2 linked regions of the Homo sapiens genome follow. The protein of the gene in region 2 binds, or shares a complex with, the protein of the main gene of each other region. Each region holds a gene or a part of one and is shown on either strand. Other genes may lie near its edges. A codon is read from its position in the direction of its gene.

What was found. Proteins that work in one complex are often made in the same cells at the same time.
Region 1: the proteins of LYRM4 (region 2) and NDUFAB1 are in contact, whole or in part, in a crystal structure (PDB 6ODD), measured with the Homo sapiens proteins. Residues at the interface, in NP_065141.3 of Homo sapiens: Arg6 (codon at 3,073), Leu10 (codon at 3,061), Ser11 (codon at 3,058), Tyr13 (codon at 3,052), Arg14 (codon at 3,049), Leu17 (codon at 3,040), Arg18 (codon at 3,037), Lys21 (codon at 3,028), Arg37, Phe40, Arg41, Lys44; in NP_004994.1 of Homo sapiens: Lys92, Asp111, Ser112, Leu113, Asp114, Val116, Glu117, Met120, Glu123, Asp124, Glu129, Ile130, Asp132.

The regions. Positions count from the first base shown.
Region 1 is NC_000016.10:23,592,928-23,600,956, forward strand, and holds the start of NDUFAB1 (acyl carrier protein, mitochondrial precursor), read right to left. Parts: upstream 3,390-8,029; 5' UTR 3,364-3,389; coding exon 3,196-3,363; coding exon of another isoform or gene 3,161-3,195; intron 1-3,160. UniProt on the Homo sapiens protein: Carrier of the growing fatty acid chain in fatty acid biosynthesis.
Region 2 is NC_000006.12:5,257,646-5,265,609, forward strand, and holds the start of LYRM4 (LYR motif-containing protein 4), read right to left. Parts: upstream 3,306-7,964; 5' UTR 3,089-3,305; coding exon 3,003-3,088; intron 1-3,002.

The DNA of each region.
Region 1 (8,029 bases), on a different chromosome or scaffold from region 2:
GCAATAACAGAAACCAGGAGTGAAGAGTCCAGGGAGCATGTGTGGTAAGAGAACTCGGGAGCCCACCAACATTTAAGGGTTAGGCACACCAGGTGTGATGGCTCATGCCTGTAATCCCAGCACTTGGGAGGCTGAGGCAGGAGGATTGCTTGAGCCCAAGAGTTCACAACTAGCCTAGGCAACATAAGGAGATTCCGTCTCTAAAAAGAAGACAGACATCAAAAAATTAGGGGTGGTGGCTCATGCCTGTAGTCCCAGCTACTCAGGAAGCTGAGGCAGGAGGACCATTTGAGTCCAGGAGGTCAAGGCTGCAGTGAGCCACGATCATGCCACTGCACTCCAGCCTGAAAGGCAAAGTGTCCCAACAAGGTAGGAGGACAAACCAACCAAGGGAGAACAGTGTCACAACAGCCTAGGGAAGAAGACAGCAGCAGAGAAGGAGCCAGCAAGTTGGACATAAGGGCTGCAAAGCGTTCAATGAAGATGTAAGCTAATGTCTTCCTTTTGTATCCATCTCTGTATCTCTCAACAGCTAGCATGAGTCCTGGCACACAGCTGGCCCTCAATATCTTTGAATGAACTTAGTCAAAACCACTTTGTAAATATAAATAAAATGGTTCCTCTGCTATATATGCAAGCCAAGCCGCCATAGTGGAACATTTCTGAGCTCCTTGCCATTCAAAGCATGGTCCAAGGAACACCCGCAGCAGGATCTTCTGGAAGCCCACTGGAGGTGGAAACTCTCTGGCCCCTTCCCAGAACTGAATCAGAATCTGTATTCCAGCCTAAGTGATCTGTATGTCCAATCAACTGAGAATCAATGCTGTAAGAACAAAGACAGTCACTTCACATTTTAGCCCAATGTTGAAATCAATCTTAGGAACCAGACACTCATCAATTCTAACTACTGCCTTTTTAACCCTTATTTATTTATTTATTTATTTATTTATTTATTTATTTATTTATTTATTGAGATGGAGTCTGGCTCTGTCGCCCAGGCTGGAGTGCAGTGGCACGATCTCGGCTCACTGAAAGCTCTGCCTCCCGGGTTCATGCCATTCTCCTGCCTCAGCCTCCCGAGTAGCTGGGACTACAGGCGCCCGCCACCACGCCCGGCTAATTATTTTGTATTTTTAGTAGAGACGGGGTTTCACCGTGTTAGCCAGGATGGTCTCCATCTCCTGACCTCGTGATCCGCCCGTCTCGGCCTCCCAAACTGCTGGGATTACAGGCGTGAGCCATCGCGCCTGGCCTTTAACCCTTAATTTCAAGGTGACACTTTTCACCTTTTGATACAGCCAACAGGGCAGTGCCCAATGAATGAATCCATTACACTGTCAGTGAACAGCAACACTGGCTTCACAAAAGAAACACTTGATGACTTCTAAAAATAGTCGCCTAGTACTCACTTCTAGATTCTGTCGATCTGGCACGGGCTGGCTGGCTTATTTAAGACGGTCTGCCTCCCAGACTGGAGTGCAGTGGCATCATCTCAGCTCCCTAAAACCTCTGCCTCCTGGGTTCAATCGATCCTCCCACCTCAGCCTCCTGAGTAGCTGGGACTACAGGCGCGTGCCACCACGCCCGGATAATTTTTTGTATGTTTAGTAGAGACGGGGTTTCACTGTGTTAGCCAGAATGGTCTCGATCGCCTGACCTCGTGATCCGCCCGCCTCGGCATCCCAAAGTGCTGGGATTACAGGCATAAGCCACCGCGCCCGGCCTAATTTCTGTATTTTTTGTAGAGACGGGGTTCCACCATGTTGCCTAGGAGGGTCTCAAACTCCTGGGCTCAAGCGATTCGCCCGCCTCGGCCTCCCAAAGTGCTGGGATTACAGGCGTGAGCCACCACGCCTGGCCAGACACACTTATTTTTCACACTAACATGCAGTCAAGGTTGAAACCACTATTACCTGAAGTCTATGACTTTGAAAAGGGGTTTCATAACTTGACCTTGGGAGTCTATCCTACCTTAAGACGGTTATTTTTATTCCCAACTGCACTTCAGAGTCATCTGGAGAACTTAGAAAACAACAAAAAAAAGGCAGGGCGCGGTGGTTCACGCCTGTAATCCCAGCACTTTGGGAGGCCGAGGCGGGTGGATTGCGAGGTCGGGAGTTCAAGACCAACCTGGCCAATATGATGAAACCCCGTCTCCACTAAAAATACAAAACTTAGCCGGGCATGGTGGCGGGCGCCTGTAGTCCCAAATACTCGGGGGGGCTGAGGGAGGAGAATTGCTTGAACCTGAGAGGCGGAGGTTGCCGTTAGCCGGAGGTTGCAGTGAGCTGAGATCACGCCACTGCATTACAGCCTGGGTGACAGAGCGAGACTCTGTCTCAAAAACAACAACAACAACACCGAAATCACTGCCTCCCGGCGTTTCAGCCTCACGCAGATTTCATCAGCTCAAGCTATATACTACAGGTACAGTCGTTCCTTGGTATTTGCGCAGATTGGTTCCAGGACCCCCGACTATACCCAAATCCCCGCACACTCACGTCCCGCAGTCAGCCTTGCAGAATCCGCTTATAGGAAGAGCCTGCCCTCCTTATACGCGGGGCGGCACATCCCGTAAATACTGGTCGCGTTTGGTTGAAAAAAAATCCGCATATAAGTGGACCCGCGCAATTCAAATCCTTATTGGTCAAAGGTCACTTGGCTTGTTTCCTAGAATTACTTCCAGGAGTCCTGGACACAGGCAGAAGGTGCTGCAGGGAAGAGTAAGGACAGAACTGCAGAGAGAAAACCGCTCTGGAGAAGGCTGTAGGCCAGTGTGGCTGCCTCTTTGCATGCTGCTTTCACTACAATACGGTGACCGCTATTTTGAGACCGTACGAGGTGCTCTAGCCGCATTAACTCATCTAATCCTCATTGCTACTCCGCAAGGTAGAGACCAGGATCCCAATTTTGCAGGTGAGTGTGAGCCAGGCTAGGAGACTTGTCCAAAGTTTCGGTAAGCGGCAGCCCAGCAGTGCTGGACTCGAGTCAGTGCTCTTGCTCGTTATTACGAGGTCACCCGGCCTCCCGTCAGGGGTCAACTAAACACCTTTAGGCAGCGGGGCTGCGGAGCGAGCCGGCTGCCCCCCGGGTCACCCCTGCCTGCAGCTGGCGCGCCCCGGATGCCCGGCCCCCACCCCCACCGGGCCCAATCCCTGACCCTTGCCAAGCGGCAGCAAAGTCACCACGAGTCACCTGCGCGAGCACTAAGGCCGGCTGCAAAGTCCCGAGCCTCGTCTGGGTCCCCGCGGAGCAGAGAGCGGTGCTGAGAGGCCGGGCCACGGCCAGCATCCGGACCCGGGGCAGCGGCGCAAAGGCCGCGGGCAGGCGGCTGACATAGGCTGAAAGGACACGAGACGCCATGGCTACGCCAACCCAGGATGCACTGCGCCGCCGCCTCCGGACCAGGGTTCCTTTCCGGCGGCGCGCAGGCGACGCACACGGCAGCGCTGTCGGGCACCGCCGGCGGTGGCGGCCCCTGGCGGCTCCTGGAGGCACTGCGCCCTCGGAGCCCATCCAGGTTCGGGGACGAACAACTGCTTGGTGTCACAACTAAACTGTGCAGACGTCGCCGTCTTTCCCTAAACGACACGGCACGAGAAACCTACTTTCATTTTTTATCTGAAAGTTCTGAAATACATCTGTTTAAACGTTTGGGGCCGGGTGCGGTGGCTGACGCCTTTAATCCTAGCACTTTGGGAGGCCAAGGTGGCAGGACTGTTTGAGCTCAGGAGTTCAAGACCAACCTGGCCAACACGGCAAGACTCCGTCTCTATTACAAAAAAGATTAAAAGAAAAAAAGGACAAAGTTTTGATTCCACAATTCTTCCACAAGTATTAACATTTATTGAATAGGTAAAAAAATATATATAATAATGTGAAAAAATAATCAATTTCAATACCTAAGACTAATAAATGTGAGAATTACGATTAAAACAATATACATGTTTTAAAACTTGACAGTGTATAATATAGCTGTCAGGTCCACGACTATGCCAACTGTCATGCCCACAGCCAGGTTCCAGCCCATATCGAGGTCTGAGGGGAGTGGGTGGATGAACAGATAGCTGAAAGAACACTCAGGGGACGGTAGGCAGGTGAAAGATGATTTTATTCAGCAGCAGCTCTCATCAGCAGCTTACTTACACTAGTTCTCTCACACTGTCTGCCTTGTCTCAGCTGCTTAGTCCCATGGCTCCCCCACACAACTGCGAGGCTGGCTCTCCCTTGCCTTCAGGGTCAGCAGCTTAACTCTCTCTCAGCTGTGATCTGGCTCCCCCTGTCTGTCTGCAAAGACTGACAGCTCTGGCTCTCTCTTTCTCTGGGCACGAACGCCTGTACAGTATCAGCAGGGCAATTATACCTTTTACAGAAAATAGTGGCTTAGAGCCAAGTGATGACCTTCCCATGTTATGCCTACATGGCTGTGATAACAAGTGGAGTTATACGCCTCTGTCTAAACTTGCTGAGTCACGCAGGATGTAAACATCTTACCTTGGCCTATCCTTGACCAAAGCACAGCCATGTTCCTTACAATAGCTAACAAAAATAGGTAAGCGAGGGAGGAGTTTAAGAAGGCTAATTCCTATTTCTAAGCAGGGAGCTAAAGGATATTGACTGAAATGGAAACACACGGGATAATGACTCCAAATTCTGAAATCTGCCTGAATGAATGATCCAATAATGTCACCAGTTTTACCTCAATTTCTTTTTATTTTTGTTAAATCCAAGTAAAATAAAATGTAATGGTATGCTGCCAGGCGCGGTGGCTCATACCTGTAATCCCAGCACTTTGGGAGGCCAAGGTGGGTGGATCACGAGGTCAAGAGATCGAGACAATCCTGGTCAACATGGTGAAACCCCATTTCTACTAAAAATACAAAAATTAGTTGGGTGTGGTGGTGCGCGCCTGTAGTCCCAGATACTCAGGAGGCTGAGGCAGGAGAATCGCTTGAACTTGGGAGGCAGAGGTTGCAGTGAGCCGAGATTGCGCCACTGCACTCCAGGCTGGCAAAAGAGCAAGACTCCATCTCAAAAAAAAAAAACGAAAACAAAAAAAACATAGTTTCATCCCACTGTTGTAAAATAATTTCTATTTATTATAGCATTCCTTTAAAACTCGAGTGTCTGGGGGCCAGGCATGGTGGGTCAAACCTGTAATCCCAGCATTTTGGGAGGCTGAGGCAGGTGGATCACCTGATGTCAGGAGTTTGAGACCAACCTGGACAACATGGTGAAACCCCGTCTCTACTAAAAATACAAAAATTAGCTGGGTGTGGTGGCAGGTGACTGTAATCCCAGCTACTCAGGAGGCAGGAAGCTGAGACAGGAGAATTGCTTGAACCCGGGAGGTAGAGGTTGCAGGGAGCTGAGATCGCGCCATTGCACTCTAGCCTGGGCAACAAGAGTGAAGCTCCATCTCAAAAAAGTCTCAAAAAAAAATTGAGTATCTGTTACGTACTAATTGTTGAGGCTGCAACTGTGAGCAAGCCAGACAGGCAAGCCTGGTTCAGTGGCTCACCTCCGTAATCCCAGCACTTTGGGAGGCCAAGGGAGGTGGATCGCTTGAGCCCAGGAGTTTGAGATCAACCTAGGCAACACAGGGAGACCTTGTCTCCATAAAAAATTTAAAAAATTAGCCAGGCATGGTGATGCATGTCTGTGGTCCCAGCTGCTTGGGAAGCTGAGGTGGGAGGACCAATTGAGCCCAGGAGGTCAAGGCTGCAGTGAGCTATGATCACACCACTACACTCCAGCCTGGGCAACAGAGTGAGACTCTGTTTCCCAAAAAAATGTAGCTCTTAGCTTAGGAAGAACCTAATCCTACTAAGTTCACAATTGGGGCCATCTCTTCCCATGACCTATCTAGTCTTTCAGTGTTACACGTATGTATGTATATATGTATGTATGTATGTATTTATAGAGATGGGGTTTCACCGTGTTAGCCAGGGTGGTCTCAAACTCCTGACCTCATGATCTGCCCGCCTCGGCCTCCCAAAGTGCTGGGATTACAGGCGTGAGCCACTGCACCCGGCCTCAGTGTTACATTTAATCCTTTTGGTAAAACATAACAAATCATCTCTTATTTAAATAATTTGGGAGAGCTACTTTTCCCTTCAGCAAACAAATAAAGACAAAATATCAGCCTACATGGCCTGTAGGGTAAAAGTCCCAATATTAAGATCACATCCTTAGCAGATGAGGAAGAGTTAAAAGACAACACCGGTGCTTTTCAGTAACATTCCCATCAAAGGATGGATAAGCATAAAAGCTGTCAGCTTCCCAGCACAAACTATCCCACCAACCCACCATGATCGCTCCCTCTGCCAGCCCATTTGCACGGTAGTCTCATCCCCTCTTATTCCCAATGGGACCTTATACCACCAGTTAGCTCTTCTTCCCTACATCTCAAAGGTCTCTCTTCTGGCTCTTTCTCCTGAACCCATAAACACATCAAAGTTCCTCTTAGCCTAAAAACAAAGTAAGAGGACCCTCCGCTGACCCTTTATAGATCTCTAATACCATTCCTCCTACCTTTCATAGACAAGCTGTTACATGTGGGGAAAAGCAAGAGAGATCAGATTGTTACTGTGTCTGTGTAGAAAGAAGTAGACATAGGAGACTCCATTTTGTTATGTACTAAGAAAAATTCTTCTGCCTTGAGATTCTGTGACCTTACCCCCAACCCCGTGCTCTCTGAAACATGTGCTGTGTCAACTCAGAGTTGAATGGATTAAGGGCGGTGCAAGATGTGCTTTGTTAAACAGATGCTTGAAGGCAGCATGCTCCTTAAGAGTCATCACTACTCCCTAATCTCAAGTACCCAGGGACACAAAAACTGCGGAAGGCCACAGGGACCTCTGCCTAGGAAAGCCAGGTATTGTCCAAGGTTTCTCCCCATGTGATAGTCTGAAATATGGCCTCGTGGGAAGGGAAAGACCTGACCGTCCCCCAGCCCGACACCCGTAAAGGGTCTGTGCTGAGGAGGATTAGTAAAAGAGGAAGGAATGCCTCTTGCAGTTGAGACAAGAGGAAGGCATCTGTCTCCTGCCTGTCCCTGGGCAATGGAATGTCTCGGTATAAAACCCGATTGTATGCTCCATCTACTGAGATAGGGAAAAACCGCCTTAGGGCTGGAGGTGGGACCTGCGGGCAGCAATACTGCTTTGTAAAGCATTGAGATGTTTATGTGTATGCATATCTAAAAGCACAGCACTTAATCCTTTACATTGTCTATGATGCAAAGACCTTTGTTCACGTGTTTGTCTGCTGACCCTCTCCCCACAATTGTCTTGTGACCCTGACACATCCCCCTCTTCGAGAAACACCCATGAATGATAAATAAATACTAAGGGAACTCAGAGGCTGGCGGGATCCTCCATATGCTGAACGCTGGTTCCCCGGGTCCCCTTATTTCTTTCTCTATACTTTGTCTCTGTGTCTTTTTCTTTCCTAAGTCTCTCATTCCACCTTACGAGAAACACCCACAGGTGTGGAGGGGCAACCCACCCCTACAGTTACACTTTTTCTTTTTGTCATTGTTTGAGACAGAGTCTCGCTCTGTCGCCCAGGCTGGAGTGCAATGGTGCGATCTTGGCTCACTGCAACCTCTGCCTCCTGGGTTCAAGCGATTCTCTGCCTCAACCTCCCGAGTAGCTGAGACTATAGGCGCCTGCCACCACTCCCGGCTAATTTTTGTATTTTTAGTAGAGACTGGGTTTCACCATTTTGGCCAGGCTGTCCTTTCTGCCCAGAATATCCGTTGCTTCTGCTTTGACCTACTTATCCCGCAAGGCTCAGCTAAATTGCCATCTCCCATGAAGTTTTTCTGGGACTCCTGGGTTGTCCAAACTGCTCAGCCTTGAGCTTCCATAATAGCACCTGGAACATATCCCTTAAATTTTTTTTTTTTTAGCTTCCTTTTTTTTTAATTAGAGTCTCGCTCTGTTGCCCAGGCTGGAGTGCAGTGGTGCAATCTCTGCTCACTGCAATGTCTGCCTCCCAGGTTCAAGCGATTCTCCTGCCTCAG
Region 2 (7,964 bases):
ATTAGATTCTCATAGGTGCACCTATTGTGAACTGTGCATGTGAGTGATCTAGGTTGCATGCTCCTTATGAGAATCTAATGCCTGATGATCTGAGGTGGAAGAGTTTCATCCCGAAACCATCCCCTCCCTTGACCCGGTCCATGGAAAAACTGTCTTCCATGAAATTGGTTCCTGGTGCCAAGAAGGTTGGGGATAGCTGTGATATAGCACTGGGCAAAGCATGCTTCAGAGATGTTTTGTAGAAGCACTGAGGTAAAAGAATGACACACAGCAATGAGACCTGTTTGGCTGGTGGGAGGGATGGGAGTGGAAGCTGTGGGATGAAGAGAGTTGGGAAAACTTTTGTTCAGAGAAGGTGACAATTGAGCTCAATCTTGAAGGAAGAGGGGGCACTCTAGACAGGAGTGATAAAGGGCCTGCTGGATAGAACAGTACTTGTAAAGGCCTGGAGGCCCAACAGGACGTGGCACATTTAGGAAACTGCAACTGATGATGACAGAGGACAGGATGCACATGTGGGACTTAGGCTGAGACTGGAGGAGCAGACAGGGCTCCTGCTATCAAAACGTGGCCTATATTATAGGTCTTGCAAGAGAGTTCCAAAGTATTTATTTCACTACTCTAATTACTTAAGGCACAATTCGCAGGTCATTAAAAAACGTTTACTAGTCTGCTTTTGATTGCTTATTCAGCACTACCTGTGTTAGTTTTGATAGGTAACTTAAGCTCCCTGTGCCTCAGTTGCCTTACAGGGTAATACAAATAGTACCTACCTCACAAGATTATTGTCAAAACAAATGTGTTAATAGACATGAAGAACATAAGATAGCAGTGGCACACAGAATTGATAGTGGATGTTGTGTTGCTATTGATTTGCCATCAGTGACAAACAGCTGCAGAGATTAGAGAGGAGGGAAGGGACTTTTCCTGAAATTCACAAGACACAGCCTTAATGTAAAAGGACGTATTTTTATAACAAGTAAGTTTATCTAGGGAGGTAATAGCAGGAATGTCGGTTTTTAGGTCTATGATCTCAGGTAACAGTATAAAATGATTATCAGATTCCTTTGGATAATATATTTATATTTGGATAGTAAATTTAGCTTAAAAGTATATGCTTAAGGTATAATTTGATCAATTATTTTCTGAATGCATATGATCTTACAGTTGCCCATACTGAAACCCATTTTCAATTTTCTGCCTTTCAGGTAGAGTCTTGAATGATTTTCCTAAAGTTTGAATGATTTTCCTGTTGAGTTTCGTGAATGATTTTCCTGTTCAGTTGGCAATTACTCATTTGAAAACGCTTGGGCCTCATTTGCTCATAAATCATTTCCAAAGAGAATTTCAGAAATGGAAGGGTCCTTAGAGATTGTCTAGTCCAACAGTCTATTTCATAAACAAGAAAACTGAAATACAGAGATTGAGAGACTTGTCCAAGTTAGTCTTCGAGGGCTCCACCTTGACTTTCTTACATGCTCTCACATAAACCCTCTCCCTGCCACTTTCCTTAGTGTGTGAACTGCCTGCTGATTCCAAGTCCTTGTGTATCCTGAGTAAGCTTTAATGACAAACTATTTTACTCCAGACTATGGTGAAATCAAATGGTTTCTATTTATTTAACTTGCATATTTCATGTGTTTCCTCAACAGACTTGGTTAAGTACTTGGTGCTAGGTGTTTGGTTAATTCTTGCTAAAATTCCACCAGTATGCTTATTATTACACTCTTTATTCTCCAAAGTCAAAGTCATTAAGTAAAATCATTCTCTCCCGTGAAATTTAACCACTTAACTGGGTGGATACAACCTCAGTGGTATGACCCAGATGCTGTTTTCAAATTTGCAGCATGAGTATATTTTCCAGGCGGGTTTCTAAAAATTTGAGAGTCATTGCTTAAGAGGCTTAGCGTTCCTGTCCTCTGACAGAGGTTGTACTGGGCAGACCCATCTCAGGGCCTGCCAGCTCACACACGTGCTGGAGGGGGGCCTACCTAACCAGGTGTGTTCCAAGGGTAGGCTCTGCTCTTATGACATCCAATCCACAGTCTGGCCAGTCACCTAAGTGAGGCTTGAGGTAAAGAGATGAGTTGATCCAACCAGATTCTTTCTCATGGGAATATGGCTCAAACTCAGAGAGAGACAGGTAGTTAGTAAAAACAAAACAAAACAAAAAACAAATCTAAAAAAAAATGCAGAGAGAGAATCCATAAGAAAATGATGGGTCAGAACCAGCAACACTGTGAAAGCAGAGGCTCTGAATTAGAAAAAACATACAAAGAGTAACAATAAAAGACTCATAGGCAAATAGGGGAGTGGGGAGGCGTGAGAAAAAGTGAATGTGTTATATTAAAGATGTGAGTTTAGGCCCTCAATATCCTGCTGTCAAGGTCCAGTAAGCGGGATCTCTGTCTGGTGAGCCAGGAGAAACTGAGGTTTCAGCTCCAAAGCTTGTGAGACCCTTTTTCCTTTTCCGCTACGCATTTCCACCATACCCTAAATAGAATGGATTCTTGCAACCAAAAGAACTCATTACGACACCTAGGAAATTTTAGGGAGGTGCTAGAGTGTGCCTTCAGCTTTGTCGCAGTGTACTACTCACTGGCCACTTCCACTCTCAACTCTTCCAGTGCTCAAGGGAAGTTTTACATATGCAACACACTGGCCTTAACTTCACAAATGACTGATTTCCATCCCTTTTTTCTCTTCTGCAGAAACATAACACTAATCATGCTCCTAGAATAACTACCAAGATAGCCTTTAGGGGGAAAACGTCACAAGACATGAACGTCTCCCCTGGTAGAAAGAAAGGCTCCTCCCCGAGGTCTCAGAGGCCACACCTGTAGGCAGGAGCACGCTTTTCGATGGCGGAGCCCGGTCCTTGCCTCGCAGCCGCCGGCAAACCACGGTGGCTCCCAGTCCCCGGGGATATTCCGCGTCAGCCCGCACCCCCGGTCCCCGGCCCCTGGCCCCCCGCCCCCGGCCCCCGGTGCCCGCTGGGTCACCTGTAATTGTAGGCGCTGAAACGCTTGCTCTCTCTCAGCATCGCCCGGTACAGAGATAACACTTGTGCGCGACTGGAGGCTGCCATTTTGGAAAGAAAAAAAAATAAACGGGTCCTCTTCGCCGAGGTCCCAAGTACGACCCAACCCACGAAACTCCAGCCTGTGCGGAAACCACGAACGAAATAAAATGCTGCGGCTCGGCTTTGCCAGCGGGCCGGGCCTAAGCCTAAGCGGGCAGCCCTGCGGATCGCGGACGGCGCCAGGCGTCCCGCGCCGCTTCGGGGGCGGGCGCAGGCAGGGCTCGGGGCAGCTAAGGGGGCGGTGCTGGGAGGGAGATGCCTCCGCCCCGCCCCGATCCCGCCCCCGCCCGGAGGCTCGGGACCCAGCAGCCGCTCCACGCGGCGGGAGGGCGGGGAAATAAGAGGACTGGCCGCCCGTGCATCCAGCCAAGCTCCTGGCGGACGGATATCGGAGGCCCAGGCATTCGAGGGACGTGCAGTTGCATCACGGAGAGCCTTTGGGAACCGTCTGGGGTCTTGGCGGAGACATTTGTGTTTCGGGGGCAGCGCCCCTTCCTACATCCAGGAGGCCGCGTTGCCCGGGTTACCGAAGGCCGCCGCACCGACGCCCCGCCCCTGACCGCCGATGCCCCTCCCACGCCGGCTGCGGTCGCCCTCGGCGCTGCCTGAGAGAGTTTGCGGGATTTCAAGGGTGACTTGATTTCGCCTGATCCTGGTCGGCAGGGTGGGGTTTCTTGGCATTCCTCAGGCCGGGGGATGCGACGTCTGGGTGTGGAGGTGATGAGCTAGGGGTTCTGTGGCACTCCGGCTCTGCTCAGGGCGACCTGCGTAGGGGCCTCTGGGGCAGGCCCGCTTTCTGTCAAAATGGCAGCGCCCAGCGTGCGCGGGTATCTCTGAAGTTGGGGTTTAAGATTCTTGCCCGTGAGAGCGAACGAGCCTGCCGTACTTCTGATTTTGAAACACCTGGGTCTGGGCTTCCCGGGCGAGCGGTGGGTGAGTGCCGGCCTCATTGCAGCCTGGGGTACGACGTGGGCGGTTGGTGTTGTAGGGGGTTTACATTGGCCGTGGATTTTTTCCTCTTTCCGGATGTGTTTTTGCTTTTGAGTGAAGAGTTCCCGTGGTTTTGTAACCTAATAAATGCATAAAATGCAGCTTGGGTTGTAGACTTTGGAGAATAATTAGAGACCTTTAGGGCTTTAGGCTTTCTCCAAGAAGCGGAGCAAGTTTTCAACCATGGCTTTCTTCAGAAGACTGCAGCTTTTTTGAATCATCTTATTAAAGTGGTGGATAAAGTTGCTTGTTCTGATCTTTGAGCATGGCACTGGACGCAGGAAGCTTCAGCCAGTCCTAGTTACTGTGTTTGCAAAGCACTTTTCTTGTTTTTGGAATCTTGCTTTATGTAATCAACCTTAGGAAGAACCACACCTTTCTGCACTCAAGCACAGCGAGAAGTACGTTATGCGTGAAAACAAAACAACTTTGCATTAAAATCCATCTTTCTCCGAACCACTTGGTCACGGTTGTGTTCTCATCTGCTTTAGTGTATTTGGTTTTGAAACGATATACCTGCTGTATGTCTAAACAACTTTATATTTTCAGGAACTTTTCTGTTTCCTTTTCTTTTTTTTGAGATGGAGTCTCGCTCTGTCGCCCAGGCTGGAGTGCAGTGGCGGGATCTCGGGCTCACTGCAACCTATGCCTCCCAGGTTCAAGCCATTCTCCTGCCTCAGCCTCCTGAGTGGCTGGGATTACAGGCGCGCGCTACCTCGCCCAGCTAATTTTTGTATTTTTAGTAGAGACAGGGTTTCACCATGTTGGTCAGGCTGGTCTCGAACTCCTGACCTCAGGCAATCCGCCCGCCTCGGCCTCCCAAAATGCTGGGATTACAGGTGTGAGTCATCACGCCCAGCCTCTATTTTCAGGAACTTTAAAGGCAGAAAAAACACTTCTCTGACCTTACCATTCTTTAGTGTACTTGCAACCTGGTGTCCTTGCATCCAGATATTCTTACTAATCCTGATGCAATGACATTTTTTAAAAGGCACTGAAGAGAAAATACTTTTATTAAGATATCTTTAAGTCTCCTCCCTGATTTCTTGAAAATCTCATGTCTGTTATTGTTTATTATTATTTTTTAAACAGGATAGCAAAACTTCTATTACTTCCTGGTTGGTCAGGTCATTGAGCAAATCTAGCCTCTGCTTTATTGAAAGGACTTTTTTGAGTTTTCCCTTTGCTATTTCTTAAAGGATCCAAGACCAAGGCAATTGCACATTGTTATAGAGTAAGATTCAGAGCTGATTTCTCTTGATACACTATTGTGTGCCAGTGATATGAAATGATATGCGGCACCTCAAAGCTACAACATTAATGCAAGTTACTGATAGAGAATGCTATCAGAGTGAAAAGGAAAAACTTGAAGATTATTTTGGCTTTTTTAAAAATAGCAAAGATTACATTATTTTATTATATTTTGCTTTTGAGAGTAAAGTTGGAATAATTACTATATACAATTGTTTCTACCTAATTATCAAGGAATTTAATCATTAACGTACATAATTAATGTATCTAAATTACTCAACTTTGTTGTAATCAAATAAAACTTTTCCAAATAAATATGTATAGTTTAAATAGTTTGGGTAGCTTAGTCCTCTGTTAGTACGAGCAATGGTTGCAGTTAGGAAAGTGATAGGCTTCCCAGTTAATTCTGAGCCAAGTCTTCATAAAAATACCTTATTATTTTATTTAAAATGGTTTACCAATGTGTTGGACATCATTGCCTGGAGAGGCTAAAAGAAAATAATCATTCCGTAGCTACATCTCACTTTTGCACATCTTCATTGCGGAGATGACTTAAAAAAAATAACTCGATTTGAGATTGTAAGTAGATTTGGGCCAGAAGCTGAAGAATGGACCTTACACATACGTCCTTTAATAGTCATTCTATTCTGGGTTGAAATTTTTCTTAGAGAGTATCTGTAAAACAGGAGGTACCATTTAGGCATCAAAACGTAAAAATTTCTTTAGTATTCATTTATCAAAAGTTATCGACTACCTGTAGTTCTTTATGGAAGATCATGTGTTACCTTCTATTAAAATTAGGGTTGTTAATGACCACTTAATGCTTTGTGAAGAGAAATTTCTCTAATCATAATAAACAGTGTAACAACAATTTACTGTCCTTAAGCTTAAATATCAAAATGATGTATAAAGTAAAATTTGTATAGTAGTAGTAACTTACGATATTATTTAGAAATTGTTCAGCTGGGCATGGTGGCTCACACCTGTAATCCCAGCACTTTGGGAGGTTGAGGCAGGTGGATTGCTTGAGCCCAGGAGTTTGAGACCAGCCTGGGCAACATGGCAAAACCCCATCTATACAAAAAATACATCATAGCGAAACCTCACCTCTACACAAAAAATACAAAAATTAACTGGGTGTGGTGGCATGTGCCTGTAGTCCCAGCTACTTGGGAGGCTGAGGTGGGAGGATTGCTTGAGCCCTGGAGGTTGAGGCTGCATTGAGCCATGATCACATTACTGCTCTGTAGCCTGGGCAACAGAGTGAGACCCTGTCTACCAAAAAGAAAAAACAACAACAACAACAAAAAGAAATTATTCTATTCTACACCACACATGAATCCAAGTATTATACATTGATCCTTCATTTTAATAGAACACGAAGGGGAAGGGGGAAGACCTTAGATATCAACTCATTCATTTGTACAGATGAACAAACTGAAGACTTTTTCCTCATTCGTTCATTCCTTCAGCATTTATTGAACACTTCCTAAGTACTATAGGTTATGGTTTTTCTTTTCTTTTTTCTTTTTTTTTTTTTTTGAGACAGAGTTTCACTCTTGTTTCTCAGGCTGGAGTGCAATGGTGCAATCTCGTCCGGCTAATTTTTTGTATTTTTAGTAGAGATGGAGTTTCACCATGTTGTCCAGGCTTTTCTTGAACTCCTGACCTCAGGTGATCCAGCTGCCTTGGCCTCCCAAAGTGTGGGGATTACAGGCGTGAGCCACCGCGCCCGGCCCATAAGTACCATATATTATATAAGATGATATAGTCACAGTGATGAGAGCTTCCCCACCCCTAAGAAACTTGTAGGTGACTAGATAAGCGAAACAATAATTTATTTTATAGAGACAGGGTCTCTGTTTACTAAGCTGGAGTGCAGTAGTGCTATCATATCTCGTTGTAACTTCAAACTCCCGTGCTGAAGTGATTTTCCTGCCTCAGCCTCCTGAGTAGCTAGGCCTATAGGCTCATGCCACCATGCCTGGCAGATTTTTAAGTGTTTTTTTTTTTTTTTGTAGAGATGAGATTTCACTATGATGTCCAGGGTGGTCTCAAACTCCTCAGTGCCTCTCCTGTCTTGGCTTCCCAAAGAGCTCAGATTATAGCTGTGAGTCGTGGCACTTGGCCAATAATTTCTTTTTGACAGTTGCTGCGATATGAGTAATATTAGTAAACGCTAAAGGAATAGGGAAGAGGAATATTGAACCAGGAGTTTCACCTATGGGAAGGCTTTCCATCGTAGAAGGTGTTTCCAGAATGAGAAGTAAAAGCCAGATGAGGAATGTGGTTAAAGATTGCAGTGTATATCCAAGCATGGAGGAAGAAGGGTGCTTGATCTATTTAGAGAACTCTTAAGTGTTTTAGAATGGTAGGAGGTGGGAAGGGAGGGACCACTGAAGTGTTTAGCCCTGTACTAGCTTTATTTTAGTGATGTTTTCTCTCTGTCTGGAATAAATCATTTCTTCCCTTATGCATTGGCTGAGTTATATAAGTAGAACTTAACAGCTGAGCTGTTGAAATGGAGATTATTTATTCAGGTACTGATAACCTTTTGTTTCAAATCATGACTTTGAATCCTATATTCCAGAGGCACTGAAATGTTATTTATTTACCTGTGCATTCAAGAGATAGCTGGCAG